Regions from separate parts of the Homo sapiens genome. Here region 2 is linked to region 1. Evidence: fine-mapped QTL for protein levels in blood plasma. Region 1 holds a variant in brackets. A gene starts in the other region. All regions are shown on their reverse strands.

Region 1 (15,944 bases):
AGCGCAACTTTGAATGCTTTCTTACTTGTTTTGTGACCTAATTTATGTGGAAGATTGTTATTTCATTAGGATTTAGTAAAATTTTTTTTTCTGATTCTAAACTTATTGTGAAAATTGAGCTGTACAGATATTCTTTTGATTTCAATTGGGAACATTTGGAAGAACAACAGTCTTACTTGCCTGTACAATATAGAGACATATGAATAGTCATAACAGTTTTCAACTTGTTCTTGTTTCTGTTAAACTATATTCCTAGAAACATAGTTTGAACAACTTGGTCTTTGTTAGGCTTGTCAAATTGCCTTCATGGAAAAATAATCTACAAAAGTATGGTTTAATTGATTGTCTTACATGATAATTTTCCCTGGTAACAACTTAGTAAGTGATATATCTTTTTTCCTAAATTGCTTAAATACTGTGAAATTGCTCTGACAAATTGGAAGTGTACCATTGGCATATTTGTCTTCCTTTTTATGCATGATGGTAAAATAAAAGCATGTTGTTCTGCTAGATTTCTTATTTTTCACCTTACCCATAAATGTAATGCTTGAATGAAGTTGTTCATATTAATTAAAAATTATGGAATCATTAAAGTCCTTTAATCCATTAAAGTTCTTAATGGATTAAAATCATTAAAGTTCTTAATGGATTAAAATCATTAAAGTCCTTAAATTGATGTTAACTAAAAATTACAGAATCATTAAAGTCCTTAAATGGACACAATAGACATTATCCCAAAGAGAAGAAAGCAGGGCACGGTATGTTTGGTACCTTCCAAGGTAGTTTGCCTTAAAACGTTAGCAGTTGCAACTGCTTACTCAATCACTTTTTTCCATGTAGTTTATGCAGCACAACCTCCCCTTCAGTTGCTCAAATCCTCCATTTCTGTCTCCATAAATTATATTCTCAGGTTATTCAGGCTCTTCTTTTTATTAACTTGTATGCAGGGAGTACCTATCATATGTGATGTACTCCTCTATTTTCATACTTTCTCATCTGTAAAAACTTCCTTTTTTTCTTTAAACTTCCTCACTGTTCTCTTCTGTCAAATCCTTCAAGGCCTGCCCTTGGTAATTCCTCTGCCAAAGTCTTTCTGTTCCCCATAGAGGAGATAAATGTTTCTTTATGCACTTAGTGTACTTTGGAGGGACCTCTGTTCTAGAAAATTAACATAATTATTCATTACAGTGAATTCCACAAATAGAGAAAAAGAGTAAGAAGATAAAGTCCATTCCCTTCTTTGGGGAACTGGGGAAGGACTGATAAGCAAACAAAGAATTAACAGAGTGATACAGTAAAATAAAATACAGAGATTATATTTTCATGTTTTTCCCATGTTCACTCTTTTCCTCTCAGTAGTTTGGAAACTTTGTGAAAGTGGAGATGCAGTGCATTTTACATGGTTCATTGCATCTAGCATTTTTTTTTTTTTTTTTTGAGATAGAGTCCCACTCTTGCCCAGGCTGGAGCGCAAGTGGCGCGATCTCGGCTCACTGCAACTTCCGCCTCCCGGTTTCAAGCAGTTCTCCAGCATCAGCCTCCCGAGTAGCTGGGACTACAGGCACGTGCTACCACGCCCGGCTAATTTTTTGTATTTTTAGTAGAGATGGGGTTTCACCATGTTAGCCAGGATGGTCTCCATCTCCTGACCTCGTGATCAGCCCACCTCAGCCTCCCAAAGTGCTGGGATTACAGGCGTGAGCCACCGCACCCAGCCCATCTAGCATAATGTTTTGCATAGTTGTCAGCAGATAAATATTGAATGACAAAACTCAGATGGAGGAAAAAGAACAAAATAACCTAGTTCTCAGAAAGATTTAATGAGCAAATGGGAAAATGTCAAAAAGATTTGCAATGCCATTCCTAAATAACTATTTCCCCTTTTAGTCATTAGAAAACGTCTAAACACTTTCAACATTAAATCTTTCACTTGCATTTTAACAGAGCACTACTTAATTTTGGGTTACCTTTTATATACTTTGTACATTTTAAGGTGATTATACTGGAGATAGAAGGGGGTTAGACTCTAGATGTGTGTTGTCCAATACAGTAACTTTTAGCCACCAGTGGCTATTGAGCACTTGAAATGTGGCTAGTCTGAATTGAGATCTATAAATATAAAATTCACACTGGATTTTGAAGACTCAGTATGGAAAGAAAAATGTTAAAATATCTCAATTTTTTTCATATTGATTGCATGTTGAAATATTTTTGACATTGTGTTAAAATATATTGAAAAATTAATTATCCTCATTTTGCCATTGTTTAATGTGGCTACTAGTAAATCTAAAATTACATAGGACAGCATGTCTCGACTTCCTGAGGAATATCTGAAAGCATATAAAATATCTGTAAAAATTAAACATGTTAATACTTTCTCCTCCTGAAGCTTCTTGTGACTAAGATAAGGGTTATCTTGCTTAAATTCAAGGCCAATGGGTAAAAAGAAGGTGAGTAAAATTTCTTTAATGAACTGTTCTTGAGTACTTAAGATGCACTGAATATTTTGCAAAATGTACTGTGCAACACTTTCTTGATATAGGCAGGGTAGATTTTGATGCCAAATTGACACAGTTATATTGGTTTAATTTTTAGTGACTTTTAAGACCAATATATGCATATTTTCTAAAGTAAAATGCTCTTTTTTTTTTTTTTGAGACAGAGTTTTGCTCTTGTTGCTCAGGCTGGAGTGCAATGGCACCATCTCGGCTCATGGCAAGCTTCCGCTCACCGCAACCTCTGCCTCCTGGGTTCAAGCGATTCTCCTGCCTCAGCCTCCCCAGTAGCTGGGATTATAGGCATGCGCCACCACGCCCGGCTAATTTTGTGTTTTTGGTAGAGAGATGGGGTTTCTCCATGTTGGTCACGCTGGTCTCAAACTCCCGACCTCAGGCGATGTGCCTGCCTCGGCCTCCCAAAATGCTGGGATTACAGGCGTGAGCCACTGTGCCCGGCCAAATGCTCTATTTTTAGTTTACAAATGTACATGATGTTCAGAAAATATTTTCAGTCGTATTTTAACAGTTGGCTAGCAACAGAAAAGGAAAATATCTGAGTCTAGCTCTGCATTAAGTCAGTTCAATGAACGCGTACTACTTGAAAAAGCAGCCGGGCAGGGTGGCTCACGCCTGAAATCCCAGCACTTTGGGAGGCCGAGGCGGCTGGATCACCTGAGGTCAGGAGTTCGAGACCAGCCTGGCCAACATGGTGAAACCCCGTCTCTACTAAAATTACAAAAATTAGCTGGGTGTGGTGGCAGGCGCCTGTAATTCCAGCTACTCGGGAGGCTGAGGCAGGAGAATCGCTTGAACCCAAGAGGTGGAGGCTGCAGTGAGCCAAGATTGAGCCATGGCACTCCAGCCTGGGGACAAGAGAGACTTCGTCTCAAAAAAAAAAAAAAACAAAAAAACATACTTTTTGAAAATTAGTGGTCTGTAATTGTAATCTTGCAGTAGTTGTTTATTGAATACTAGCATAAGTAAGGATTGAATGGGATAGTAAAGGTTGTCTTTGCCCTTGAGGAACTCAGGCTCATTGAGGGGGGTACCGTTCCTTGAATGTTTCCTTTTTTTCTGCAGCAAATACACACATTCAAAACATCTACTGCACACAAGCAAACTCAGAGAGGACCAGCCTGGCTGAGAGGAGTTGACCATCCCCCTCAGGACTGACTTCCTTTCCTTCAACATTATTATATAATTAAAGTCCTAGACTATATAGAAGTGACAGGTATGCTCTCTATGCATTTATTATTATGGGAGGTGTTTTACTTGGAAGCAGTACTTTCTCCATGTTAAGTGCTTTGAGCTCTGAAGGGCCATCTTAATCCATTCTCTCTGACCTCAGAGGTTGTCAAGACCTATAGAAGAGTTTCTATCAAGCCACATTAGGAAAAATGTGGATGTCTACTTTTTGGCTTCACTTTTTTTAGGATTTGTATTTAAGGTAATTTCTTTGAGAACAGGTAAAAGGAAATGGTTCAATTAAAAAGGAAAGGGTCATTTAAGTAAGTTACTAATTTTTGTGAACACCTATATGTCTTAGATATGACCTGATGGGCAGAGAAGGCATACTAGCTTTAAATTAGGATTAAATCCCGGTTTTACAATTACCATGTATTGCATTTCCCAAAATAAACTACTCTGAATCTTGGTTTCCTTATCCATAATGTAGGGATGATAAAACTTGCAGTATAAGCTAATGTTTTAGGATGCATTTGGAGACTGCATTATAAGGTTACAGAGAAGATAACAACAGAAACATTTGAGAGCTTACTTTGCGCCTGACACTGTGCTAAGAGATTTCAAGTATTAATATAGTTATAATATAGAGGTTAGACAGCAAGCATCATGTCTAGCATATAATATGCAATCAATTAAAATTTCCATTTGTCTTCCTCTCAATTTTAATTTCTCATTTAATTTACATTCAGACAAATAGTCATCTAGCTTCATGGTTCTCAAACCTGGCTGATCATTATATATAGCTTTGAGCTTTCAAAAAATACTGATGCCAAGACTCTACCCTGAACCAATTAAATTACAGCCTAAAGTGCAGCTGAGTTTGAGAATCATGGCTTACCTTTTCTTGAACTCCTTAAGTTAGGGAATACATACTCCCTTCCCAGTTTTGTCAAATTGATTCAAATTTGCCACCTTATAAACATCCAGCTATTGCAAAGAGCCTGGTATATCGTAGAGTTTCAGTATATCTATTTCATAGTTTCCCCCCTGTGGTCTTGCAGAATGGAATTAACCTGAATTCAACAAAAGAGGTCTTTAAAATTCATAACAGCAGGTGTCGTCTGTCTTTGAAATTCCCTTGCCAAAAAAGGAAATGATTTCTTAGTGATATGCTTTACTTCTGTTGATCACTATTTGCTCTTTTAAAGTGTCCAAAGATGTTTTAATAGATACTTGGTATTTGTTGTTTTCTTTAATAAAGTATAATTTACATGTAGCACAGGAATGGTCATAGCAGTTTTATTTATAACAGCCCCAAACTAGAAACAGCCCAAATGTTCACCAACAAGTGAGTGAATGAACAAATTATGGTATATTCATACAATGGAACACCACTCAACAATAAAGAGGAACAACCTATTGATCATCAACATGGATGAATCTCAGAGACATGTTAAGTGAAAGATGTCAAAGGAATATATATTATATGATTCCATGTATATGAAATTCACTAGCATAGAAAACTTTTTTATGGTGATAGAAATCCCAGGAATGGTAGCCTCAAGGTTGAGGGGAGTAACGGTAAAGCTTGAGGACATTTGCAGGGGTAATAGTGCTCCATATCTTGAGTTGGGTGATAACACAGGTGTATCCACTTTTCAAAACTTGTCCAAGTATATATTTAAGATTTATGCATTTTAGTGTAAGTAAATTATACCTCAATAAATAGATTTTAAAATATTATTGATAATTTAAAAAATAGAACTTCATTTGCCCATCTCCAGTCTTTTGGCTTCTCTTCCTTGGTGGTAAAAATTGCTGACTCTACTTACAAGATCTTATTTGTGAGTTCTTACTGTTGCATGATTTTATTTATAATTCTAATAATGAAATTCCTTTTTAAAAACTTATTTCTCTTTCAATTCCAGGCCAAAATTGACCTTTCTCAAGATTCTCTTAGTTTACAAACTGAGGTCTGTCATCCTCTGGTCATTGAAGTGAAGTCTGCTTAGGACATATTGTCCTGTAAATAGGATTGACATTCCCTGGGGCCCTCTCAAGAATCTCTCTGAGCTTCCTTTTCCATTTCTGACCATTTAGATGCTTACAAGATGCTTTTCTCTGACTTCTTCAGCTCCAACTGCTCCTTTCCATTACCCTAAAGCTGTGGATCATAAAGAGTGTTCTCCAGACCAGCAGTATCTGCACCACCTGGATCTTGTTAGAAATGCAGATTTTCGAACCCCACCCATGAGCTACTGAAACAGAACTCTGAAGGTGAGGCCTAGAAACCGGTTTTAACCAATGTGCCAAGTGATTCTAATGCCTGCTATCAATCATTTGGGAACCATTGTCCTAAACTCAGCTGCTGCTTCTGCTTCATCTCCAGTTGATTCAGTTTCCTTAATTGTTACCATTATAAAAACAAAATAAAGCAAAACAAGACATTTACCTATATTATTAATCACAAATAAGTTCCCTACCCTGTGGGGTCACAATTTGGGCTTTGGATATCTAATTCTGCATCAAGTACATATCTCTGTCTTCACAATCTCAACAAATTATTAGATATATCAGTAACTTCCATATATGCTCTCATTTTGTAGTTGCAGTGTCACTATCTCCATTTAATGGATAGGGAAATAGGGGCTCAGGAAAGAGAAGTGTATTATCCAAGACGAAGGTAACATGGGCTGCATTCAATTAGGGTTTCTCATTTCCAGCTAAGACACTTTGCACCATATTGAAGCAGCTTGTAACTAAATTTGCCATAAAAATATATCTAAAATCCTAATTAAGTTTGAATAGCTTGATCTTAGTTGAAAGTTATTCCTAATTCATTCACAAGTAGCTTTTAAAAGGGATATGTTTATGTTAAACAATAGAAGGTCTCCAAATCCTATCAGATAACTGTATCCTGTCTTTAAAAATGTAATTTTTTATATCTACTGCCTGAATTAAATTGCTTAGTTGTACTTTCCAGAGAAATAGAATGGACCAAAGCAGTTCAAATATTTTAATATTCTTCTGGAGTTTGGCTGCTGAGATGTAAAGAACTATTGATATCACTAGTAAATAAATAATGTATATTTATTGAGGTTTAGTCAATAGAGCGATTACTTATAAGAGGCATGTAGTACTTAATTATCATCCTCTTCACCAAACTCCAACTTAACCTTGGACAATACAATTAAGAGTTGTGTTCAGATGGCTTTAAAAACAGGTGCATGGTACAACATGCTCTTGTTGTTAACCATTTTGCTTAATGGCCAAACTTCTCTTGGGTCAGTTTTGATAACTCCTCTGCAATTTCATCAACAATGAGGGAAATGTAATTTCAAGGTGAGCATTGAGCACTGAGTATATTAGGCAAGAGTGGGGCTTGCTTATTTTTGGCCTTGCAGCTCCCAGAAATAGAATGTTTACAAGGTGTAATCATATTTCAGTACCTTGTTTTTCCAGAATTGTTTTCTTTTCCCAGAAATTTTTTACTCTCTATTTATTTGTATTTAGCTCTTCTTTACTAAAGTATAACTCTATCAGAGCAGAAGACTGTGTCTTCTTCATCTTTATATCTTACATTCTTAGCATGGTAGATGTTTAATTGGAATGTGATTTCAGAGAGTGGCTGTGTTCCAGTCTTGATCCAATATTGATGAACTGAATGTGTTAGTCTATTATAAGCAAAGATTTTCAGGTCAAACTTGGTTTGAAATACAGACTGTATGTTCCTCACAGAAAATGTGACTTTGAGCAACCAAGTCTGCTTAAAGTCAGCTATTAAAAGTATGTATTTCATGCATCTAGTTTTTTCTTAATATATTTTATAAAGTCTTTAAAGTGATATGTGGAAGAATGTGGTAAAGCACTTTAGTTAGAGCAAAAAGGGTTGTTTTCCCTATCAGCCCAAAATACCATATGTCTAGAATCATTAGGAATTAACTGTAACATAGTGGACAAGCATTATTACTATGTGCTAGTGTTTCATGACTTCCTCAGATTATTCAAATGGTATCCAATCTACTTGGTCCAATTCAACTCTTCTTTTCTTCCACAAACCTTTCACTTATTTTACATGGATGACTTTTGTTTCTCAACTTTTATACAATTACAGTTTCATAATAGAATTTGACATTGATTTTATACTGCCTACAATATTGTTTATTTAATGTAATTCTTAGCATAAAAATAATAAAAATGAGCAAGTCAGCTTCTATTTATTGAAAGCATATTGTGAAAAACACTTCACAGATATCTCATTTCACCTTCATGATAATTCTGTAAGTTGTTTTATTATATTCATTTTGTATATGAGTAAATTGTGGCTTAGAGAGCTGAAGTGACTTGCCTAAATTAAACAGCTAGTAAGTAACAGAACTGGGACTTGACGTCAGATCTGTTTGATTTCAAAGGGTGCATCTTTAACCAGCATACAAAGGTGTGGGGTCATTCAGGTCAGAGCCTTTGTCTCTGGTTTCTCTTAAGACTGGTGAAAGCAGGAGCATATGAGGTTTTTTTTTTTCTTTTTTTTTTT[A/TA]AAGTATTATCACAGGCAGTGATCATAACTAGATAATTAGCCTGAGAAAATATTACTTTTGTAACAGTGATAGCCTAAATAAAATAGAAATGTGATTCCATTGTAATAATAAAGAGTACCAAACATATGTGAGAAACTATGCCACAGTTATTTTACTGAAATATGATCTATTTTTGCCAAGCTGATCTATATCAGCTTAAACTTGAACTTTGAGGGCAGACAAAACAGAATCGTACTATCATCCTAAAGACTACTTCCTCCCTCTAGTGACCAGGAATGGGAATATCACAGCTACAGGCATTTAGAAAACTTGATTCTCAATGTATATGCATACCTCCCTCTAGGGGATATTTGGGAAATTTTCAGTAGTAATTTTGGTTATTACGATGAATAGGGCTGCAGCTGGTATTCATTAAGGGCATTAGGGATGCTAGACATCGTGAATGTGAGGGATAGTGCCCTATATAAAATAATTTTCCAGCTCAAAACATTCATGTAGATGAAAAATTCATTATTTTTTAAGTCTAGAACATAGCAGTTCAGTCATGTTTCACTTAACAATGAGACATTCTGAGAAATGTGTCATTAGGCAATTTCATCATTGTGCAAACATCATACAATATACTTACACAAACCTAAATGCTATAGCCTACTACACATGTAGGCTCTATGGTATAGTCTATTGCTCCTAGGCTACAAGCCTGTGCAGCATATTACTGTACTGAATTCTATAAGCAATAGGAACACAATGGCAAGTATTTGTGTAACTAAACATATCTAACATATGTTGTGTAACTAACATATCTACATAGAAAAACTACTGTAAAAAGATGGCATAAAATATTTTAAAATGGTATACCTGTATAGGACACTTACCATTAATGGAGCCTGTAGGACTGGAAGTTGATCTGGGTGAGTCAGTGAGTGAGTGGTAAGCGCATGTGAAGGTCTAGGACATTACTGTACACTACTTGATACGGTTTGGCTCTGTGTCCCCACCCAAATCTCATCTCAAATTGTAATCCTTACATGTCAGAGGGGCCTGGTGGGAGGTGACTGAATCATGGGGGCAGACTTCCTCCTTACTGTTCTTTTTATAGTGAGCTCTCATGAGATCTGGGGGTTTAAAAGTATGTGGCTTGCTCTCTCTCTCTCTCTCTCAAGCTTTGTCATGGTTAGATGTGCCTTGCTTCCCCTTCACCTTCTGTCATGATTGTAAGTTTCCTGAGGGCTCCTCAGGCATACGGAACTGTCAGTCAATTAAACCTCTTTTCTTTATAAATTACCCAGTCTCAGGCAGTTCTTTATAGCAGTGTGAAAATGGACTAATATGCTATTGTACATTTTATAAACATTGTACACTTTGGGACACTAAGTTTATAAAAAAATTTTTCTTTCTCCAATAATAAATTAACCTTAGCTTACTGTAACTTTTTTACTTTATGTTTTAACTTTTTAAAACTTTTTGAGTCTTTTATAATGACACTTAGCTTAGAACACAAATATTGTACAGCTGTACAAAAATATTTATATCTTTAATTTATAAGCTTTTTTCTAATATTTTTTCTTTTTTTTCAACTTTTTAAACTTTTTTGTTAAAAATGAAGACACAAACACACACATTAGCCTAGGCATAGCCATGCTCCCGATTATCAATATCACTGTCTTCTACCTCAACATCTTGTCCCAATAGAAGGTCTTCAGAGGCAGTAACACATACTGAGTTGTCATCTTCTGTGATAAAAATGCCTTCTTCTGGAATACCACCTGAAGGATCTGCCTGAGGCTATTTTACAGTTAAGTTTTCTTTTTAATAAGTAGAAAGAGTATCCTCTACAATCACATATAGTATAGTAAATACATAAGCCAGTAACATAGTCATTTATGTTTTATCAAGTATTATGTACTGTACCTAATTGTATGTGCTATACTTTTATATGATTAGCAGTGTAGTAGGTTTGTTTATACCAGCATTACCACCAATACATGAGTAATGAGTTATACTATGACCTTATGAGGGCTACAGCATTACTCAGGCTGTGATGACACTAAGCCATAGGAAATTTTCAGCTCCATCATAATTTTACTGTTGGATATGTGATCCATCATTTGATGAAACATCATTATGTGGCACATGAGTATTTCACATATGAAAACAAAAAATTTGCACTTTTTAGATATGTGCTGTATTTTTACAAGGATTTATTTCATCTGCTCTAAAAGTATTGATTGTAAAATAAGCCATTAGTTAACACTAAGAAAGAAAGTAAGAAAAAGAAAGAAAATAACTTTCAATTAAACTCTGACACAAAGCTTTCTAATTCTTAGGATTTTTATTGTATACATATTGAAAGACCTTTTGATTTTAAAAATGTAGTTTTATCATATATCACTCATAGGTATATATACAAAGTAAATTATGAGTGAAATAAACTAGTTTCACTATTCTAATTATTTTCCCATTTATAATAGTAATCTTAATTACTATTCAAAATTCTTGAATAATTTTGATGATGACAACATATCTTAGTAGAATGTTCTACTACTAATAACAGTATGCTTCTGAGATTTTTTCCCCTAAGCCTCCAGTACTCATTCTGCAAGTTTTGATGCTGGCACTTTCTTGACTTTACCAGAAGATATCAACAGAATATTTTCAGGGAACAAATAAGGCTTATTTTCCTTCCTCAAATGGCTCTTAAAGAGTTTACTGATTGAAACGTCAAGAGGTTGCAGTTGTCCAATAATGTCGGCAAGACTAACAGCCAAGTTCACACCTCCTGGATGACTAGTATACCATGACTGCTGTTCTGCTGGTAGCAGTTGTAAGATGCCATTGATTATATCATGGATAGTCATTTCAGAGATGTTAAAGTGTGGAAAAAGAAACTGGGTTAAAAGGGGAGAAAGCTGGGAACCCTGCATGGGGCTACTGCACACCAGGACTCATTCCTGGCTTCCACTGGCTCCAAGGGAATGGGTGAGTTGAACTGGCAAGGAGCAACCTACTCTCACGCGGCCTCTGGAACCCTGGCAGAAGGGAACCCCTTGACCACCATGGACACTCAAGGTGGCAGAGAGAGCTAATTAGAGAAGGGGTAGGGGCAGCAAGCCATCTGATGCAGAACCCAGAGGGTTTGATGTGGGAGCATCTGTAGCAGAGCACAACTAGGGAAGGCTGTCCCCTCTAGGCTTGACTTGCTCACATAGGAGATGTTAACCCTAGGGGAACTGTCAGATCTGAACTCTGCAGAGTGGTCTTGTCCATCAGACTGGGCAGGTCTGACTTGAGCACCCCTTGATTTGCTGGCCTCTCCTGGGGCCCCAGCCTGGCCATTCCTGCTTGCAGGGTGGTCTCGGGTTCCCTGGGGGCCCACACCATACCTTCTGTGCTGGTGGACCATGCTTAACCAGCAGGGAGCTCCAGTGGGGTGGCCACTACAGCCATGTGCCAGCCTGCATGCTCTCTCCTCATAATGCAGCTTCCCCTGGGCTCACACCAACTCCCCACATCACTTTGCTAGCACGTCTGTATGGGCAGATTCTGCTTTCACTGCCCCACCAGCATGTGGGAGTGCTGTCTACTCCACTCCCCCTGCTGACTGCCATTGTAGACAGAGCCTTGGTGGGCACAGAGCCAGCCAGCCCAGTCCCTGCCAGCACCCCACCCTTGCACTAACACTACACAGAGAACAGCAGATCCTTCCCTGCCCTGAGCAATCACTCCTGCTTGCAGGGCACAGAAAAGGCACCCAGACCTGTGCCCATCAGTGACCCACCCCTGAGTCAACACCACCTCCAGCATGACTGTGCACACAGTCACCATCTGGGGCCACTCCTTCCACTCCCCACCCCTGCAGCTGCATTTCCTCTGCCACTGTGGTGAATGCCTGCTAGCATGGCGCCTGCTAGCATGGCACCTGCTAGCACTCTGCTGCAGCTGTTACTACCACTGCTGCTGGCACATGTGAACGAAGACAGATCCCCCTGTTGCTGCAATATGAAACACTTTGGCTGATACCACCCATCAAAGTGTAGTGAACAGTGGTCCGGGAGCACCTCAGTTCCCCCAACACAGTGAATTCCTAACCTTGAGGAGCCAGAAAACAAAGTCAGGGCCTAATATAAGTTCCCCCAGAATTACAGCTTGAAGTGTAGGACTTGGGAGCTGAGTGCTGGCCCCATAAAAATCTTCCAGAAACACAGCCAGTTGGCTGAGTCCACCTTACACCACAAATGCTCAAGTTCATCAAATATAATAGGATAAAAGAAAAACCATCCAAAGGTCAGCAACCTCAAAGATTGAAGGAACACAAGACCACAAAGATAAGAAAAAAATCAGCACAAGAACCCTGACAACTCAAAAAGCCAAAGTGCCTTATTTCCTCCAAAGGATGGGCTCACATCTCCAGTAAGGGTTCTGAACTGGGCTGAGATGGCTTAAATGACATTCAGAATATGGATAGGAATGAAGACCATTCAGCTACCAGAGTACATTGAAACCCAATCCAAGGAAGCTGAAAATAATGATAAAACAATGCAAGAGCTGACAGACAAAATAGCCAGTATAGAAAAGACTGTAGCCGATCTGATAGAGCTGAAAAACACACTACAAGAATTTCATAATGCAATCATGGGTATTAATAGTAGAATAGACCAAGCAGAGGAAACACTCTCAGAGATTGAAGACTGGCTAGTCAGACAAGAATAGAGAAAAAAGAATGAAAAGGAATGAGCAAAACCTCTGAGAAATATGGGATTATGTAAAGAGACCAAATCTACAACTCATTGGTGTCCCTTAAAGAGATGAGGAGAATGGAACCAACTGGGAAAACATATTTCAGGATATTATCCATGAGAACTTCCACAACCTAGTGAGAGAGGCCAACATTCAAATACAGGAAATAAAGGGAACCCCAGTAAGATACTTCACAAGATCATCCCCAAGACACATAATCATCATATTCTCCAAGGCTGAAATGAAAGAAAAATGTCAAAGGTGGCTAGAGAGAAAGGGCAGATTGCCTACAAAGGGAAGCCCCTCAGACTTATGGTGGACTTCTTAGTGGAAATCCTACAAGCCAGAAGACATTGAGGGCCAATGTTCAACATTCTTAAAAGAATTTTCCACCCAGAATTTCATATCCAGCCAAACTAAGCATCATAAGCAAAGGATAAATAAGATCCTTTTCAGACAAGCAAATGCCAAATTTGTTACCACCTGATCTGCTTTACAAGAGCCCCTGAAGGAAGCACTAAATGTGGAAAGGAAAGATCATTACTGACCACTACAAAAACACACTGAAGTACACAGATTAGGGACATTATAAAGCAACCACATAAACAAGTCTGCAAAATGACCAGCCAGCTTCATGATGACAGGATCAAATCCACACACGTCATTACTAACCTTGAATGTAAATGGCCTAAATGCCCCAATTAAAAGACACAGAATGGTAAGCTGGATAAAGAATCAAGACTTATTGGTATGCTGTCTTCAAGAGACCCATCTCACATGCAATGACATATATAGGCTCAAAATAAAGGGATGGAGAAAATTCACCAAGCAAATGGAAAACAGAAAAAAGCAAGGGTTGCAATCCTAGCTTCTGACAAAATAGGCTTTAAACCAACAAAGATAAAAAAAAAAAAGACAAAGAAGGGCATTACATAATGGCAAAACAGTATTCAGTTCAATAAGAAGACCTAACTATGCACCCAACACAGGAGCACCCAGATTCATAAAGCAAGTTCTTAGATCCCTTCAAAGAGACGTAGACTCCTACACATTAATAGCGGGAGACTTTAACACACCACTGACAATATTAGATTGTTGAGGCAGAAAATTAACAAAGATATTTAGGACCTGAACTCAGCACTGAATCAAATGAACCTGATAGACATCTACAGAACTCTCCACCCCAAAATAGCAGAATATACATTCTTCTCATTCCCACATGGCATATACTCTAAAATTGATCACATAATTGGAAGTAAAACACTCATCAGCAAATGCCAAAGAACTGAAATTATAACAAAAAATCTCTTGAACCACAGCAAAATCAAATTAGAAATCAAGACAAAGAAATTCACTCAAAACCATACAGTTACATGGAAATTGAATAACCTGCTCCTGAATGACTTTTGAGTAAATAATGAAATTAAGGCAAAAATCAAGAAGTTCTTTGAAACTAATCAGAATAAAGAGACAACATACCAGAATCTCTGGGACACAGCTAAGGCAATGTTAAGAAGGAAATTTATAGCACTAAATTCCCACATCAAAAAGTTAGAAAGATCTTAAGTTAAAAACCTAATATCACAACTAGAAGAAATAGAGAACCAGGAGCAAACAAATCCTAAAGCATGCAAAAGACATGAAATAACCAAATCAGGGCTGAACTGAAGGAGATTTAGACACACAAAAAATTTCAAAGATCAACGAATCCAGGAGCTGGTTTTCTGAAAACATTAATAAAACAGACCATTAGCTAGACTAATAAAGATAAAAAGAGAGAGGATTCAAATAAACACAATCAGAAGTGACAAGGAGGATATTACCACTGATCCTACAGAAATACAAACAACCATCAGAGAATATTATGAACACCTCTATGCTCATAAAGTAGAAAATCTGGAAGAAATGGATAAATTCCTGGATACATACAACCTCCTAAGACTTAACTAGGAAGAAACTGAATCCAGGAACAGACCAATATTGAGTTCTGAAATGTAATCAGTAATAAAAAGCCTACCAACCAAAACAACAACAACAACAACAACAGAAACCCCAGGACCAGACAGATTTACAGCTGAATTCTACCAGATGTACAAAGAAGAACTAGTATCATCCCTACTGAAATTATTCCAAAAAAAATGAAAAGGAGGGAATCCTCCCTAACTTATTCTATGAGGCCAACATCATCCTGATGCCAAAACCTGGCAGAGATACAACAGAAAGAGAAAATTTCAGGCCAATATCTTTGCTGAACATCAATGCAAAAGTCCTCCACAAACTACTAGCAAACCAAATCCAGCCGCACATCAAAAAGCTTATCCACCATGATCAAGCAGGCTTTATCCTTGGGATGTAAGGTTGGTTCAACAAACACAAATTAATGATGTGATTCATCACATAAACAGAACTAAAGACAAAAACCATATGATTATATCAATAGATGCAGAAAAGGCCTTCAATAAAATTCAACACTCCTTCATGTTAAAAACTCTCAAAGTAGGTATTGAAAGAACATACCTCAAAATAACAAGAGCCATCTATGACAAACCCACAGCCAACATCATAATGAATAGGCAAAAGCTGGACACATTCTTCTGGAAAAGCAGCACAACACAAGGATGCCTGCTCTTTCCACTCCTATTCAACACAGTATTGGAAGTCCTGGCCAGGGCAATCAGGCAAGAGAAAGAAAGAAAGTGCATCCAAAGAGAGGAAGTCAAACTATCCCGCTTTGCAGACTACATGATCCTGTATCTAGAAAACCCCATAGTCTCAGCCCTTAAGCTGATAACATCAGCAAAGTCTCAGGATACAAAATCAATGTGCAAATATCACTAGCATTCCTACACACCAAAAACAGTCAAGCTGAGGGCCAAATCAGGAAGGCAATCCCATTCACAATAGCCACACAAAAAAATAAAGTACCTCGGGAGGCTGAGGCAGGAGAGTGGCGTGAACCTGGGAGGCAGAGCTTGCGGTGAACTGATAT
Region 2 (15,944 bases), not on the chromosome of region 1:
GGACTGGTCTCAGATAGGTCCTGAACATTACTTCCATTGTAAGAGAAAGGAAGACCAAAGATACCTGAGATTCAGTTGACCAACAGAAACAACTAACTCACCCTTCCCTGGCTGGTTCAGAATATGTAGTCGAGGTTAACATATTCAACTCTCTTCTAATGTAAACTTTTCAGCTCCACTCAGTTTTTCCTCAGCTAATAGTCAATAAGAGAAAACACATAGTGAGAGTCCTAGGAGATGTGTGTTCCTTTCAAACTTCAGCTATTGCCTCTTCCTGCCCCAACTGGCAGATTGTCCCTCATGTGTGATTTAAGATACAAAAGCTTTTCAACGTAAGCCAGAAAAAATGAGCATTTGGAGAGCATATGGCACTGCAGTAATCAATGTATAACTAACACGAGATTTTGGCCACTTTATAAAAAGACAATATATTTGAAAGAAAATGTGTCTTTACATTTGAAAGGTCAAGGTCCATTACTTTCTGCTAAATATAACCGTGAAAATGAGGACTTTAGTGATTAAATTTCTCAATCCTCTAATCTGATTATCAGTTTTGGCAGCTGTTCTTCTTAGAGCATTATGGCAATGTATTTAAATTGTAGCTATCTGTTTGCCCTATGAATGAATTATGAACTTTATGTTTGCATAGAAAAGAAAACTGATACAGCGTTGTCCAGGTACTGAACCAGGGTCATGAAAGTATATATAATAAGCTTGACTTTGGCCTCTGTTAATGTGGAAAAAAAGACTGTGTATACAGTCAGTGAGACCAGGGGATCAGGATTTAGACTGCCTGTGCTAACTGAATAGCTTTGGGAAAGTCATATATCTATCAAAAGTTTCAGCTTTCTCATTGCAGAGTAGGGAGAGTAACATATCTCCCTCAAGTCGTTATTGTGCGGGATTTAATGAGCTAATAAATTCAAGGCATAATGCAAACTTTCACTGTTATGTCCACTAGTATTGTGATTGCCAAGGAGATTTCCACATGATATACAGGGATTAGGGGAACATTCCTCTTCCTTTCTCCACTCTTGATGTGCCAGAGGCTTAGTAACCAAGGCTAGAATTTTGGCTAGGTGGTGAGGCAGCACTGAGTTGGGAGGTCTCGGATAAAAATCATCTAAAATTTGCCATAATCTTCTGGATGCCATACACAGTTAAAGATGTAGCAATCTGAGTGAGAGAAAAGATGGTCTGCATCGCAAGTAGACATAATGACACTTGAGGGAATGTACATCCAGGAAGTAGAGAAAAGTGGTTTCTGAGATTCTGCTCCTCTAGCAGAAGGCAATACTTTGTTACAACCACAGCACCTAAAATAGCCAACCAAAACAAATAGATGAAGGAATGAGTCTCTGTATTGCATAGGCCTAGAAGATATAGTGTCAGGTATGTTTGCATAGAGTGGATTTTATTTGGAATTGAGCTTTGCCTACCTTTTATTTACTTCCTCCTCTATAATCCTATACAACCTAGTACATATTTTTGATGTTGTACTAAGAACATTGTAATGTAACTGGGTTATACAGTGTTCATTCATCTACCCTATTATGTTATGAGGTCCCTCATATTTGTATCCCAAATGTCTAGCATAAAGTTTGTCACACTTCAAACATTTAATCAGCTCCCTTTAAAGTAGATTAATGAAGGAATGAACACAGTAAGAGATACGTTATATACCCTCATTATCTCTTTCTTTCTAGGGGGAAGGGGATTCATAAAATTAGGCACAGAGGATACCCCATCCTTTCATGTGGCTTCATCTTATTATATAGCACTCTCAAATGCACTCTGTGCCTGACAGAGGGTGCATTAGAATAAATGTTTCTTACATGGCCCAGCTGGTTAGAAAAATACCTAGTTGGTGAAGGAGTTGCTTAAACTTTAGCAAAACCCTCATGACCATTTACTGCTCAGAAGAGATTAACTATCTTTCTTAGCAGATGTGTAAACTCATTAGTGCCAGCTGGACTCATTTCAAGTTTTATTTTGGCAGGGCTTAAACTAAGAGGCAGCAAAAACTGTCTTTGTTTATTAAGGAGTTATCAGTGTAACTCCTTAAATACCTATGTTACATAATATGTATCCCCAAATCACTGGGCTCAATTAATTCTCATCATTCACTCATAAGCCAGACATGCTACCTCTCTCTAAGGTGTCTGAGAGAGAGGAAGACCATCTGCCACAGTCCATTTCTTAAATTCTTGGTTCACCTACCGAGACGGCAGGGCTCTCAGAGGATACAGTATCATACTCAAGGCATGGGAGGGGCTAAACAGGTCAAAATCAACTTCATTTGTTGTGGGGTCCAGGGGTGTGGTGGTGAGAAAGATCAGAGGCAGCAATCTGACACATGCAGAGGCGCTCCTGGACTCACTGCAGCTTTTGCATTTTTAAATTCTGGTATTTCATATTCTGCTTTAAGGTCTTGGTATGGTAGAAAGAACTTAGGTCTAGGTGTGATAGAAAGAATATAGGACTAAGAATCCAGAACTGTGGATTCTAGTCTCAGGTCTGCCAACAACCATGGCAGGTAAACATGACCAGATGCTTAACCTTTCTAGATCTCAGTTCACACTTGTGTAAAGTGAACATACTTATAGTTCCATTCAGCATTCAAATTACAACTCCATGCCTTATTTTTACAGAACTCCAGACTATTTTGAGCCTTTGTCTTTAGCCACAGACAATTTAACTGTCAATTGGTGTAGCAATGACAAATCAATCTGGATGACTGTTTTTCCCAGTTATCTCTAGCCTTGCACTTCCTGTTGACTTTGGACAAAGGAATTACTTTCCTCAGCCTTGAGGCAGCATTTTGGGCTAGACACTGGATTAAGGAGATAGAAGTGCTATGACATCCCTTTGGAGGCTGATTGTGGTGGTCATGTTGCTCCTTCCAAAATATTCTAAATGTAAATTCAGTAACGTCAAAGTAGTCTCCAGGAAATTCAGATTACCCTTATATTGGAAGATGTCTTTTTCATGGATATAAAAATACTCAATTATTTATGCAATTAAGAGGAATACTTTTTTTGTAATAACCTGGGTTAGTAATCTCAAACTTCTGCCAATTCCACTTCTTTAATTCTCCTTTCTCCATCTGTGGTCATAGAGGTTTTAAGGATGCACCCTGTTTGGCATAGAAAAGTAGAAGGAAACCAGCATTTCTAGAGCATCTCTCGGGACTGATTCCAACCTGCATCTACAGACCACACCACAGAAGGGTGAGAGGCCTGTTTTTGCCCCCCTCCCATTTCCACTACATGCCTTATACAGCAGCCCTGAGTGGGCTGAGGATTCTGCTCTGAAATCCCCTTGAAGCTCATTTCCCTAGAAGAGACTACCAGAAAGTGTGACAACTTCATGGGCAGAGAGGTGGTCTCTGAGCTTAGTTAAGAGAAGAGCTGACAGGAGCAAGGACATGGGCTTTAATTCTATAAGGCCATTTCATGTTGCTCTGTTTCCTGATGGGAGTTTGATGCTCCATCTCAAAATTGTGTGCCAAGGCTCTCAATGGGAAGTAGGATATGGGATGATCTGGATGAAGTTTGTGCCATTGTGTGAGGGGCTAAAACAATATCTTTGAATGCATAGGCATTTTCCATTTAATCCTCATAACACATCTGCGAGGTAGAGTTATTATGTCTATTAGAAAAGGAAACTGAGGCTCAGAGAGTTTTAAGTAACTTGTCCAATGTAGCAAGGAATAAAATCCAGGTATCCTCTGAATTCCAACTCTATTTTTCCATGGCACGATGCAATTTCCCAAAATGTCTGTCTTGATACAAAAGGGCTAATCTTTTTTTTTTTTTCTTTTTAGTCAGATTCAGAGTCTCACTCTGTCATCCAGGCTGGAGTGCTGTGGCACGACCATAGTTCACTGCAAATTCAAACTCCTGGGCTTAACCAATCCTTCCATCTCAACCTCCCATATAGCTGGGACTACAGGTGTACACAACCATGCCCAGCTAAGTTAAAATTTTTTTTTTTGTAAAGATGGAATCACACTATGTTGCCCAGGTTTGTCTCTGACTCCTGGCCTCAAGCGATCCTCCTGTCTCAGCCTCCCAAAGTGTTGGGATTACTAGCAGAAGCCATTGTGTCCAGTGGTTCATTTTTTTTTTTGTATGAGCGAAAGACAATCAAAAAGTGTCCAGCACCTGAGAACAAAGAGAAATGGCAGTAGTCAGTGCTCCATGAAAACTGAGTATCAGTCCTTGAATTTTATTTTAGTCTAAAGATATATTTAATTTTATTCAGAAGATAGATATAGGTAAGTTTGAAGTTGAGTCAACTTTTCTCCTGAATATGATTCTCGGTAAATGAGTGGTAAAATTCCCTCCCCTAATAATATTTTGAAGGAACTGGGAGGGTCTAATCTGACTTTACTCTGAATGTGTCATTCCAAAACTGGCTGTCTGTCTCAGTGGTTGGTGCATTAGAGCCAGCTCACACAGATTTTGGCCATGGGGAGCTCTGGCTCTTGGAGATCTTTTCCCACCTCGGCATTCAGTGATTCTGCAGTGGCAGCTTGAAATTGACCTTAGTGAGCACATTTACATCACAGAAATCAGTTAACTATACAAAGCATCCCCATCCCATTTATTTTTCCCTACTGGAGAGGTGATAATTAAACATTTATCCTTATAGTTTCAACTATCATTCTTAATCATAGACATCTGCTAATCAAAGCTGACAGCATTTCCAGATCAGGCTGGTTTTCCTAGGACTGTGACCTTGTAACATGACATCAGAATGACTGAAAACTGGCACAAGGATATAATGTGCAAAATACCTCAGATTATTAACCCACTTTGAGCAAGTGTGTCCTATACTTTTCAGGGCTTCCTGAAAACTTGAAAGAGAACTTCTGTAAACTACCCCCAGTATCCTCAGAAGTCAAGAATAATTATTTACTTGAGAATGTTGAATACAACAAGAGAAAAGGGGAAGGGAAGACAAGTATATTAAAATGTCTTCAAAAATATCTTTAATATTTTATGTAAAATTTCACTGTAGGTAATTGTTTGTATTAAAAAAAAAAGTGGATCACAAGCTAATATGTCAAAGGAACAGGGAACTTTAATGGATGCACTGACATTAGGAAATGTGTGGGAATACACTGATCTGGTCAAATCTTCAGAACTCCCCAAGGCTATCTCTCTGGGCTGCTATGGTTCTTCTCCAAAAACATAGATACATACAAAAACATAGCTTCATACATGCTTGGTTGGGGTGTAAAATGGTACAATCATCTTGAAAAAATCCTTTGGCAGTGTCTAACATTTCTAAGTATTTTATCCAAGAGTAATAAAAATTGCAGGTCCACACAAAGCAGCTTTTTTCATAAGAGCCCCCAAACAAACTAGAAACAACACAAATTCCAGTAATAAGACATTTGTGATATATTAGAATATTACTCAATGATTTAAAGGAACAGACTATTGATACACACAGCAACATATTTATACATTGTGGGATATTCATACGTTTTGGTAAATTCATACCTTGGACTACGCAGGAATTAAAAGAAACAGACTATTGATGCAGTGACCTGGGCGTATCTCAAAAACAGGAAGTGTGAGAAAGAAATACTACACAGTGAATACTTTATAATTCCGTTTATATGAAATTCAAGAATAGGCAAATCTAATCTATGGTAATCGAAATGAGAAGAGTGTTTGCCCCTGGCCTAAGGATGGAAGGATTGATTTAGGAAAAAGTCTGCAGGAGCTTTCTGGAGTGATGGAAATGTTCTAACTCTTTTTTTTTTCTTCTTCTTCTTCTTTTTCTTCGTTTCGAGACGGAGTTCCACTCTGCCGCCCAGACTGGAGTGCAGTGGCGCCATCTGGGCTCACTGCAGCCTCCGCCTCCTGGGTTCAAGCCATTCTCCTGCCTCAGCCTCCCGAGGGGCTGGGACTACAGGTGCCCGCCACCACGCCCGGCTAATTTTTTGTGTTTTTAATAGAGACGGGGTTTCGCCATGTTGGCCAGGCTAGTCTCGAACTCCTGATTTCAGGTGATCCACCCGCCTTGGCCTCCCAAAGTGCTGGGATTACAGGCGCGAGCTACCGCGCCCAGCCAAAATGTTCTAATTCTTTATTGGTGGCTACACAGTTGTCAAAATTTATCAAACTGTCCACCTACGATATATTATAAGCCTGTATTAAATGTAAATTAGAACTCGATTGAAATCTGTGTGTATAAATATAAATATACACTTATTTACATTTCTAATCTAATCTGAAGGTCCATTGCAACGAATCCCGCTCCGCTCTGACCCAAGAACTCCGCACTTTCTCTCCACCAGCCTTTCAAATACCTGAACTTCATGCCTTCAAGAGGTGGATTCCGGCTTCTTTACAGCGCAATCACTAGCAGGTCATTTCCGTCTAGCTTGCAGATTTCCCATTACTGACACAAACGCTCCCTCAGGGCGTCCCCGTCTGGACTACAGGAGAAAGTTTGGGAGGCAGGTTCAACTTTTCAACTTGGCGGGGAATTCCTCTCCCTCTTACACAGTTTGCAGCGCGGGGGCGGCGGGGTGACAGTCCCCGTGCATGAATCAGCCACCCCTCAGGCTCCGCCCCGGCGGGGGTCGGCCGGACGCTCGCCCCGCATAAAGCGGGCACCCGGGCCGCCTGGAGCAGAAAGCCGCGCACCTCCTCCCGCCAGGCGCTTTCTCGGACGCCTTGCCCAGCGGGCCGCCCGACCCCCTGCACCATGGACCCCGCTCGCCCCCTGGGGCTGTCGATTCTGCTGCTTTTCCTGACGGAGGCTGCACTGGGCGATGCTGCTCAGGAGCCAACAGGTATCTGGCCGCTCCAGGAGCTTCTCTCCCCAACCGGCGGAGAGGGCGCAGCGGGCCATGGGGCCCCGTGTAGGCGCCCTCCAAGCCTCGCTTTCTCCAGGTCCCTGCCGCGCGCTCCGCTGGCAGGGGGGACTCGCTCCCAAGTTTGCACTTTCTCTGCAGAGGCCCCTCCGCTCGGAAGGGGACAGAACTCCCCGGGATGTTCTTTCCTCCTAGGAGCTACGCCTGACCACTTTCCCTCTCTTTTGCTCTCCTTCTGCCCCTTCTTCAGGAAATAACGCGGAGATCTGTCTCCTGCCCCTAGACTACGGACCCTGCCGGGCCCTACTTCTCCGTTACTACTACGACAGGTACACGCAGAGCTGCCGCCAGTTCCTGTACGGGGGCTGCGAGGGCAACGCCAACAATTTCTACACCTGGGAGGCTTGCGACGATGCTTGCTGGAGGATAGAAAGTAAGTGCCCTGCGCGCACCCAGGACTCTCGCGCTCCTTGCGCCGGCGGCTGGTAGCAGCTTCGCCAGTTTCCCACGTCTCGCTTTCTACAGGAAGTTTTAGCCTGGGTTTTCTCAAGTGTTAAGCAAACCTCATGGTTTTCAGTTTCTTAAAAGTAATCACAAATTTACAACCACTAACACATTTCCTGTCTCCCAACTGACATTGATCATAATTCAGTGCCTGTGCGGACTCAGGGAAAGATTTGTTCCCTCACCATGGGGTATAATAAATGCAAGAGAATAACGTGTTAGGTACAACGTAAGTGCTTCTCTGTATTTTTCATTAATTCCAAACCTATGATTTTTATCTCTCCTGGAGTACATCATTTCCTTCTGTCGATTATCCATCAATCTGAAATATTTTTAGTGGATTTTATTATTGAAGTGTGACTTAGCTCATTATATAACTCTACTTTTGTCCCGATACCCAAACATGTGTTGGATTAGTTGCGGGACATGGTGGAGATTCATAATACTGTTATATTTTAATTTATTTTTAATTTTTAAATTATATCGGTTAAGGCCTGTAAGAGAACATGGGGCTTTTCCATTCAAGGAACTGAGCCAGGGGAAAATGCGTATTCATGTGAATAAGCTTTGATTCACTGCATATGTACAATCAGAGAACACCCAGAGAAAACAGAGAGTCTTTCTACTGAACTTGAAAGATACATCACAGCTGAGTCAGCTCTGAATACACTGTTAGAAAAAAAAAAAGTAAATATCTGGATTCATGGGAGTATTCTGGGTATTTACTATCCCAACACTAATACAACTTCTCTCCCCCCACAAAATGTTGCTGAAAATACAGTGATGGTTTAATAAGAAGGCTACTTTTGACTAACATTGTTCTATTACCCTCCTTTTCCTAGAAGTTCCCAAAGTTTGCCGGCTGCAAGTGAGTGTGGACGACCAGTGTGAGGGGTCCACAGAAAAGTATTTCTTTAATCTAAGTTCCATGACATGTGAAAAATTCTTTTCCGGTGGGTGTCACCGGAACCGGATTGAGAACAGGTTTCCAGATGAAGCTACTTGTATGGGCTTCTGCGCACCAAAGAAAAGTAAATACGATTTTTATGGTATTTCTATTTCACTTTTTTGAAAAGACATTTGGGTGGAAAAAACTCAATTTGATGCGAAATTAACATGTGCATTTTCATGATTTCACATTACTTGACAAGTTAGTGACTTGTCAAGTTCTTAGGACTGGAAAGTGACAAAGCCATGATTCAAATTTTTGCTTTCTGCCTCTTCTGATTTGTTGTTTTTGAGACGGACTCTCGCCCTGTTGCCCAGGCTGGAGTGCAGTGGCACAATCTCGGCTCTCTGCAACCTCTGCCTCCCGGGTTCAAGCGATTCTCCTGCCTCAGCCTCCTGAGTAGCTGGGACTACAGGCGCCCGCCACCATGCCCAGCTAATTTTTTTTTTTTTCTTCTTTCTCTTTCTCTTTCTTTCTCTCCTTCCTTCCTTTCTCTCCTTTCTTTTTCTCTTTCTTTCTTTCTTTCTCTTTCCTTCCTTCCTTCCTTCCTTCCTTCCTTCCTTCCTTCCTTCTTTCCTTCCTTCCTTCCTTCTTTCTTTCTTTTCTTTCTTTCTTTCTTTTTTCTTTCGACGGGGTGTCACCGTGTAAGCCAGGATGGTCTTGATCTCCTGACCTCATGATCTGCCCACCTCGGCCTCCCAAAATGCTGGGATTACAGGTGTAAGCCACCACGCCCAGCCCTGAATTGTTTCTTTAGAACTATTTCTCAGCTACTCAATTTATGCATAAAAGATTAAAGTATTCATTAATGAATGTTATGACCTCAGATTTGTACACAATAAGTTATACATGTGAGATAGTGGAATATATACAGAATTAAGATGGTGAAACTTGAAAATTTCTTTCTAAAGTTTTCGGTTAGATTTCTGTATTCTTCAGTAATTGCAAATTGCAGCACAAACATCTCCACACGTTTCTGTCCTATCCATTTGTTACCTCTCCCACCACCACCCCTGAATCCTTGAAATGATAGTCTCTTGAGTAGTATTTAATGTTTGCAGAGGGAGACAATACAGGCATTTCCCCCAGACACAGAGATTTTTGAAAAGTTCAACAAACAAGGAAAACTTGCTTTGGCAGAGAATTTGATAAAGCTTTATAGCTGTACTGTGTTGAATATGCAAAATCTTGAGTTAATGTGGTGATGGTTACTGTGGATGTTCTCTTGTTTGTGTACATATAAATGTTTGCTCCAGTGGTTACCTGGAAATTAGTATGCATATATTATTGATTAATAATGGAATGAGAGCTGTTAAAAACATTAAAGCAAAACTACCAACACGACAAAATTTACCAAATCATGCCACATATTGTCCTTGAAACTTACCCCATTTTTACCTAACCATATCTGGTATTTGGGTTTAACTTCTTTTTACATTTAAAGGATACAAAGATGTAGCTTCAGAAGAAATTCTATCCAGTTTACAAAAATTTAGAATTACCAAAATATAGCATGTAAGCTTACCTGCAATTTGAAGCACATCTTTTTAAAGGTTTAGTATGATATTTTGGATTCAGACTGAGGCTTCTATGGGATTAGATTTTCTTCAGTTACTTCAGTAATCACCATAATTTAAAAATTCTGGTATTATAACATTTCTAATTTTCTTCTCTTTTTTATAAAGTTCCATCATTTTGCTACAGTCCAAAAGATGAGGGACTGTGCTCTGCCAATGTGACTCGCTATTATTTTAATCCAAGATACAGAACCTGTGATGCTTTCACCTATACTGGCTGTGGAGGGAATGACAATAACTTTGTTAGCAGGGAGGATTGCAAACGTGCATGTGCAAAAGGTAGTGAATGTTTTCTTATTCCACCTTTAGATAAACTTTATAAATAACTTATCAGAAAAATTATATTTTTATTTATCCATTTTACTAATAGCAAATTGCTGTTTCTAGACTACTTCTACATAAGTATCTCCGTAGTGTTAATCAGTTTTGTCAAAATGCTTTTACTGGCTAGCTGCAGTAGACGGTAGCTGTATCTTCATATCTTAAAGGTAAAATATTATTAACTGAGTGTATAATGAGTTTTGACTTCACAGTCCTTAAAAATAAGATGAAGTGAGCTCAATAACCTTATCAGAAATAGTGATTTATAGTGAGCCTACAGACTGGAGATGTATGATTTTCATTGTCGTTTTATTGATTTTAGCTTTGAAAAAGAAAAAGAAGATGCCAAAGCTTCGCTTTGCCAGTAGAATCCGGAAAATTCGGAAGAAGCAATTTTAAACATTCTTAATATGTCATCTTGTTTGTCTTTATGGCTTATTTGCCTTTATGGTTGTATCTGAAGAATAATATGACAGCATGAGGAAACAAATCATTGGTGATTTATTCACCAGTTTTTATTAATACAAGTCACTTTTTAAAAAATTTGGATTTTTTTATATATAACTAGCTGCTATTCAAATGTGAGTCTACCATTTTTAATTTATGGTTCAACTGTTTGTGAGACTGAATTCTTGCAATGCATAAGATATAAAAGCAAATATGACTCACTCATTTCTTGGGGTCGTATTCCTGATTTCAGAAGAGGATCATAACTGAAACAACATAAGACAATATAATCATGTGCTTTTAACATATTTGAGAATAAAAAGGACTAGCAAATAAAACTCATTTTGCATTTAAAAGTTGGATTATATTTTAGTCCCAAGAAGACAAAGTCGCAGATTAACAACACTTTAAAAATATTACTCCCATTTTATTGTGTTAGATTGCAGTACAATGAATGAATAAGGGGATTTATTTAAAAGATCTTAACTTTCTTGACTGATTTAAAAAGCTAATCAATTTATTAAAGCCAGAAATGTTCTCCTCTGGGAAAGCAATTTCTATCTATTTATCTACCAATCCCCACTCACATGTATATGTTTGTGTTTACATAGAGATAGATGGTTTTAAGGGTTTTCCTATTGTTAAATTATTTCCTAAGACATTGTGGGTTGGAGACCACTAAACTTATAAAAAACCAAGGAAAGTAAAGTTTTTCAAATGTTTATACTGTTTAAGGTGTTTATTTATATAAACCATGCATGAGAAACCATGCATAAATTTAATAATTTAAATTTCACCAGTAAATTATCATTGATTAAATATGGTCATACCAATGAAATAGGTTTTTTCTTTCTCTGTAATAAAACAATTTTTCTAAATTCTTATGTTTTCATAGCAAGATTAACATATTTAATTACAAATTAAATATGCAAAATGACAAATGCGTTTACCTTTTGCTTGAACAATCTTTCATTTAAAAATTTATCCCAGTTATTTTGACAAATAGGTATATGCCTGAGAACTTTGAATGATGCTGAAAGCTAGAAGCAAACCAGGTACTCTTCAGTCAGGGACTGGTTGAAGATTTTATGGATGAGGAGTTAGCAAAATATCTATATATGCATATCTTCTGACTCCCAGGATACATAAGAAACACAGGGCCTAGAACAGTATGAATAAACACACATATACACAAACATCACAGAAGATACTAAAGATATTAAAAATGTTTACCTATAGAGGTTTGGAGAGAACAGAGGGGTGGACAGTTGTGGAGATAATATTTGTGTAAATATAACTGTGATATAGTTTTTATCTTGGACCATGTAAATATTTGACATAATTAATAATCAAAATTAAATAAAAAAGAAAAAGCATTTCTTTAAGCATTCAAACCCAACTGAATACCAAATAGTGGCAAAACTACACAAAAGATATATACTTATTTTCAATGACTTCACAAATTAATATGAGAATGTCTTTTGGGGAATATAAAGGTGAAAAAATTCTGAAGAAATCTCAAAATGCATTTTTAAATTTGTTATTACTTTTTATTTGAATAGTTTTGGAGTTACAAGTGGTTTTTTATTACATGGATGAATTATATTGCAGTGAATTCTGAGATTTTAGTGCACTGTGAAAATGCATTTAGTAGTCTCATTGTTAATGGTAATACTGGTGTTATTTTGAACCTATTGTATCTAGAATACTATGTTGTAAGAAAACAAGTAGTTACATTTCTTTAGAAGTCAGGATTTTCAGTGTTAAGAGAAAATGAGATACAAGTATACAATGAAAGAAATTAAGTAAAAATCTTTGACTTAAATTGGAATTAGAAATATTCATATAAATTAATAACTGATTTTCTCTATCAAAAAATCTGTATTTCCCACTTTTCCATTGAAAAGTCCTTGAAGTAATGACAACTCAGTAGCAGTAGTTACAATGAACATCAAGACTGTGGTCTCTCCATACTATTACTCACTGGTTCCTAAGAACCAGTGCTCTTAGGAGAATAGCTGAATCCAGGTCTGGGGCAGGAAATATGTAAAATAAACTTGGGCCATCTTACTCCAGAAATCAAGGAAGCTATCAAAGACTAATGAATCATGTCACAAAAACGGGAGCAATATTAAGGAGCTCCCACTAACCTAAAATGAGACAATATGGCCATCAAAACAAATAATGACCACAATGTATATAAATATATAGAAATCTGAGTTTATGATTATATACACACACTCACCTCCTTGGTACCTTTTGGAGGTTTCTAGGGCATTATCTCATTCATTTGAAAACGATGAATTAACAGAAAGAATAAAGCATTTATCCTTTTTTTGTTTATTTTTTAAAAACTGTACCACAGGGAAAATAGTATATGGATGTCATTCATAGAATTCCACCTAATACATGCATTAAAATGTTAGAAAATACTCCTAACAAAAGTATGAATATAGGCATCCCTCACCATTGGGTGCTGAAACAATTGTATGAAAAGTTTTTGGGGACAGTCTCATGGGAAATCAGGCTAATGTCTCTGAACTCACAGATCATTTTGACATCCATAATAGTTTAGTCATAGACATTATTTGCTTCCTGATATGATACAATAATAAGTGCACCCTCCCCATCAAGTATTTTTGGAGAAATAAAACACAGTAAACCCAAAGATAGTCAAGACTGTAGATATCACTATCATATTGCCAGATTATAGAGAAATACTGGGGATATGGGAACAAGTTAAAAGAAACCAAGGAAAGTAAATCCATAATGTTGGGCACTCTACAGGACAAATACCTTGGTTTCTCCATACAAGTCAATAAAAATTTTTAAAAATGGCAGAGAGGAGGCAGTGCTTTAAGAAAAAATAATAGATAGCAATGACAAAAAGCAGCATGCCATTAAACGGTTGGTTAAGGCCTGAATTTATGACTGTTTTTGGTGGGAATAATTATAGGAGAAGGATCTTGTGTGTGTTATGGAGGTGAAGAGTGAGTGATTCAGAGCCTTTGAGGATTCTGGGGGCTCCTAGTAACCCCAAAGGGAAGCTGGATTTGGTATTTGCTCCCTTCGTCTCCCATGTAGCCAAAGCTCTTAGGGGATCATGGATCCAACTCAGCCTACATTTGCACCTCTTTGATCAGCATGGGTAGGAAGTAGATATTTTGGATAAAATTATTCTAATGCCCTATTACCTCTGCCATGTTAGTTTAATTAAGAAATATATAAAGTGGTCACAAGACATTCTGCAGTCAAGGGAAAATTCCTCCTTACCACAATCAATGTGAAGGCAAATCACAGCTGTGGTTAAAAGGAATGTCTCATTCTGTGACACAAAAAGTCAAAATAGAAATGGGATGGCTTTTAATAAGACAGTATTTTTAAAATTACCCTGGACTATCACTCATGTGTCCCCTGTGCACACACATTGTCACAATATTTAACCATAGAAACTGCAATGGAGGCCTCCAAATTGCCTGGATCACAGCACCCCCAAGTGTGCATGCTGTCTCCCCCAACAGTCGTGTTAGACTTTTAGCCAACAATCTTATCCAATCAGAGAATATCCTATGGAATGTCTGTCCATATATTGTAATAATGTCTGTAGACATTTTAGCTCTGTTGCATCTAGAGATAAATCTCTAGGGTGTCCCCAAGGAGTTGACCTAAAATAATCAATGTGAGAAGGATGTCTCTTGATCCTTCATCAGCCTTCTTATGACCTGATGGACTTACTGCAGTGGCAGGAACTTATCTTTATAAGCTTCATGTTTCCAGTAAAATTTAGGTCCTGTGATTAAAAATAAGGAAAAGTAGAAAAGTACAGAGTTGTAGCTTTAAAATATCTTTTGCCCCTATATATTGTTATAAACTTACATATGGAAGCAGGCAAACATGGGTATCAGAATCATCCAAAATTATTTCTTCTCCCTTCATCCACATAATCAATTATTCACCAAGTGTACCTAAGTAAGCCTTTCCTAATCCTCTTCTTATACCAGAAAAATTAAAACACTCCAGAGTTTTTCTTCCAATCTATGTCTGCCTCATATACAGTCATCCACACTGATGCCAGGGTAATCCTGGAAAAAAAAATATGATCAGGTTACCCCTTTGCTTAAAACTCTTCAGTGGTTTCCTGTGGAATCTTCACATACTGTCCAAGCCCCTTGTGTGTCATTTAAGAATTCTTATGCATGTACCATAACATTCTTTTCTTTTCCAGATTCATCTCTTATTATCTGTAACCTGTAATACAGTTGCACTAAATTATCTGCAGTTTCCAAAGCATGTCATACTGCTTTACTTTTCTACAATGTGGTTCTGAAATTTTGTGCATGAGAACCATCTGTAGAACCAGGTACACAGCAGGCTTTTATGCCCTGTGCCCAGGGGTTTTTACGTAGTGGGTTTGAGTTGGCACTCAAAGATGCACATTTTAAACAACAACTCCAGATGATTAGGATGTACATCCTAATCATCATCGCACTTTAAGGAATTTACATCGCACTTTACATCGATGTTACATCGCACTTTAAGGAACACTTTTTTTAAGCCTTACCATAAGTTTCTTTCTTTGAAAAAAATATCATTCCCTCCTTGCAACTATTTGGCAAGTTGAATCTTCTCCTTGTTGATGAGGTATTCCTTGCCCAACCTGAAGCAGGTTTAATCATTTATCCTATGGGCTTGCCTAAACCTGGAGCAACTTCCTAGTTGTACTATTGCAGTATTTAATTATTTTCCTTGAAGTTTTATTCTTAGGAGATCTAAGTTTTTTCATGTAAAATTAATGTTATTTTTTTCATTTCAAAATATATTATTAAGCTAATTGTATACTGTATAGAAAATAAAATACATAAGGTTAAAAATAAAAGCAATGCAGAATTTTACCACCAAGTGATTAATAACTCCATTTCTGATCTCTTAAGGTGGAAATAACTTAGTAAAGAGATATACACGTTTTAATGTCCTTAGTTTATACTGAGAAAGTGCATTACAAATTATATCAATCTATCCCCAACTAAAAATATATGAAAATGGCCAATACATTAGGTATAAACAGAAAAATATTAATAAATCACTTCATTTTAATAAAATGGTATTTTATTTTATCATTGTTTTATTTGGTATTTCCAAGATTATTACAAACGTTGAACTTTTTTAATTGTGTAAATTTAAGGTGTACAAAATGGTATTTTGATATACATATTTATAGGGAAATTACTACTACAGGTAAGCAATTTTAACATGTCCATCATGTTCTATAGTTGCTAGTTGCTCTTTTCTATCTTTACTTTTTGGCAAG

Alleles and levels. Alleles are on the strand shown, and positions count from the first base shown. The strength of an association depends on the size of the effect and on how common the allele is.
As copies of A replace TA in region 1, the plasma level of the protein whose gene starts at base 6,655 in region 2 goes up (weak association).

Evidence for each region. PIP is the chance, under the fine-mapping model, that this variant and not a neighbour inherited with it causes the effect. The UK Biobank Pharma Proteomics Project read protein levels with antibody pairs (Olink). The fine-mapping took linkage between variants from a reference panel, not from the people measured, so its PIPs are less certain.
Region 2: TFPI2 starts here. The variant in region 1 is fine-mapped to the plasma level of the TFPI2 protein (UK Biobank, PIP above 0.99).

The regions. Positions count from the first base shown.
Region 1 is chr6:116,261,292-116,277,235 of GRCh38, reverse strand. It overlaps TSPYL1 (TSPY like 1), which reads left to right. Exons shown (of 1, transcript NM_003309.4): 1 at 1-2,378. It also overlaps a transcript of DSE not described here. Among named protein-coding and RNA genes, the nearest start is that of TSPYL1, 11 kb to the left of the region's middle. RefSeq lists an enhancer at 5,609-6,110. The variant A/TA (reference allele first, on the strand shown) is at 8,218.
Region 2 is chr7:93,881,464-93,897,407 of GRCh38, reverse strand. It overlaps TFPI2 (tissue factor pathway inhibitor 2), which reads left to right and starts at 6,655. Exons shown (of 5, transcript NM_006528.4): 1 at 6,655-6,817; 2 at 7,089-7,271; 3 at 8,185-8,373; 4 at 9,977-10,147; 5 at 10,512-12,012. The coding sequence starts at 6,730. The coding sequence ends at 10,588. It overlaps TFPI2-DT (TFPI2 divergent transcript), which reads right to left and starts at 6,514. Exons shown (of 2, transcript NR_134235.1): 1 at 6,329-6,514; 2 at 3,820-4,166.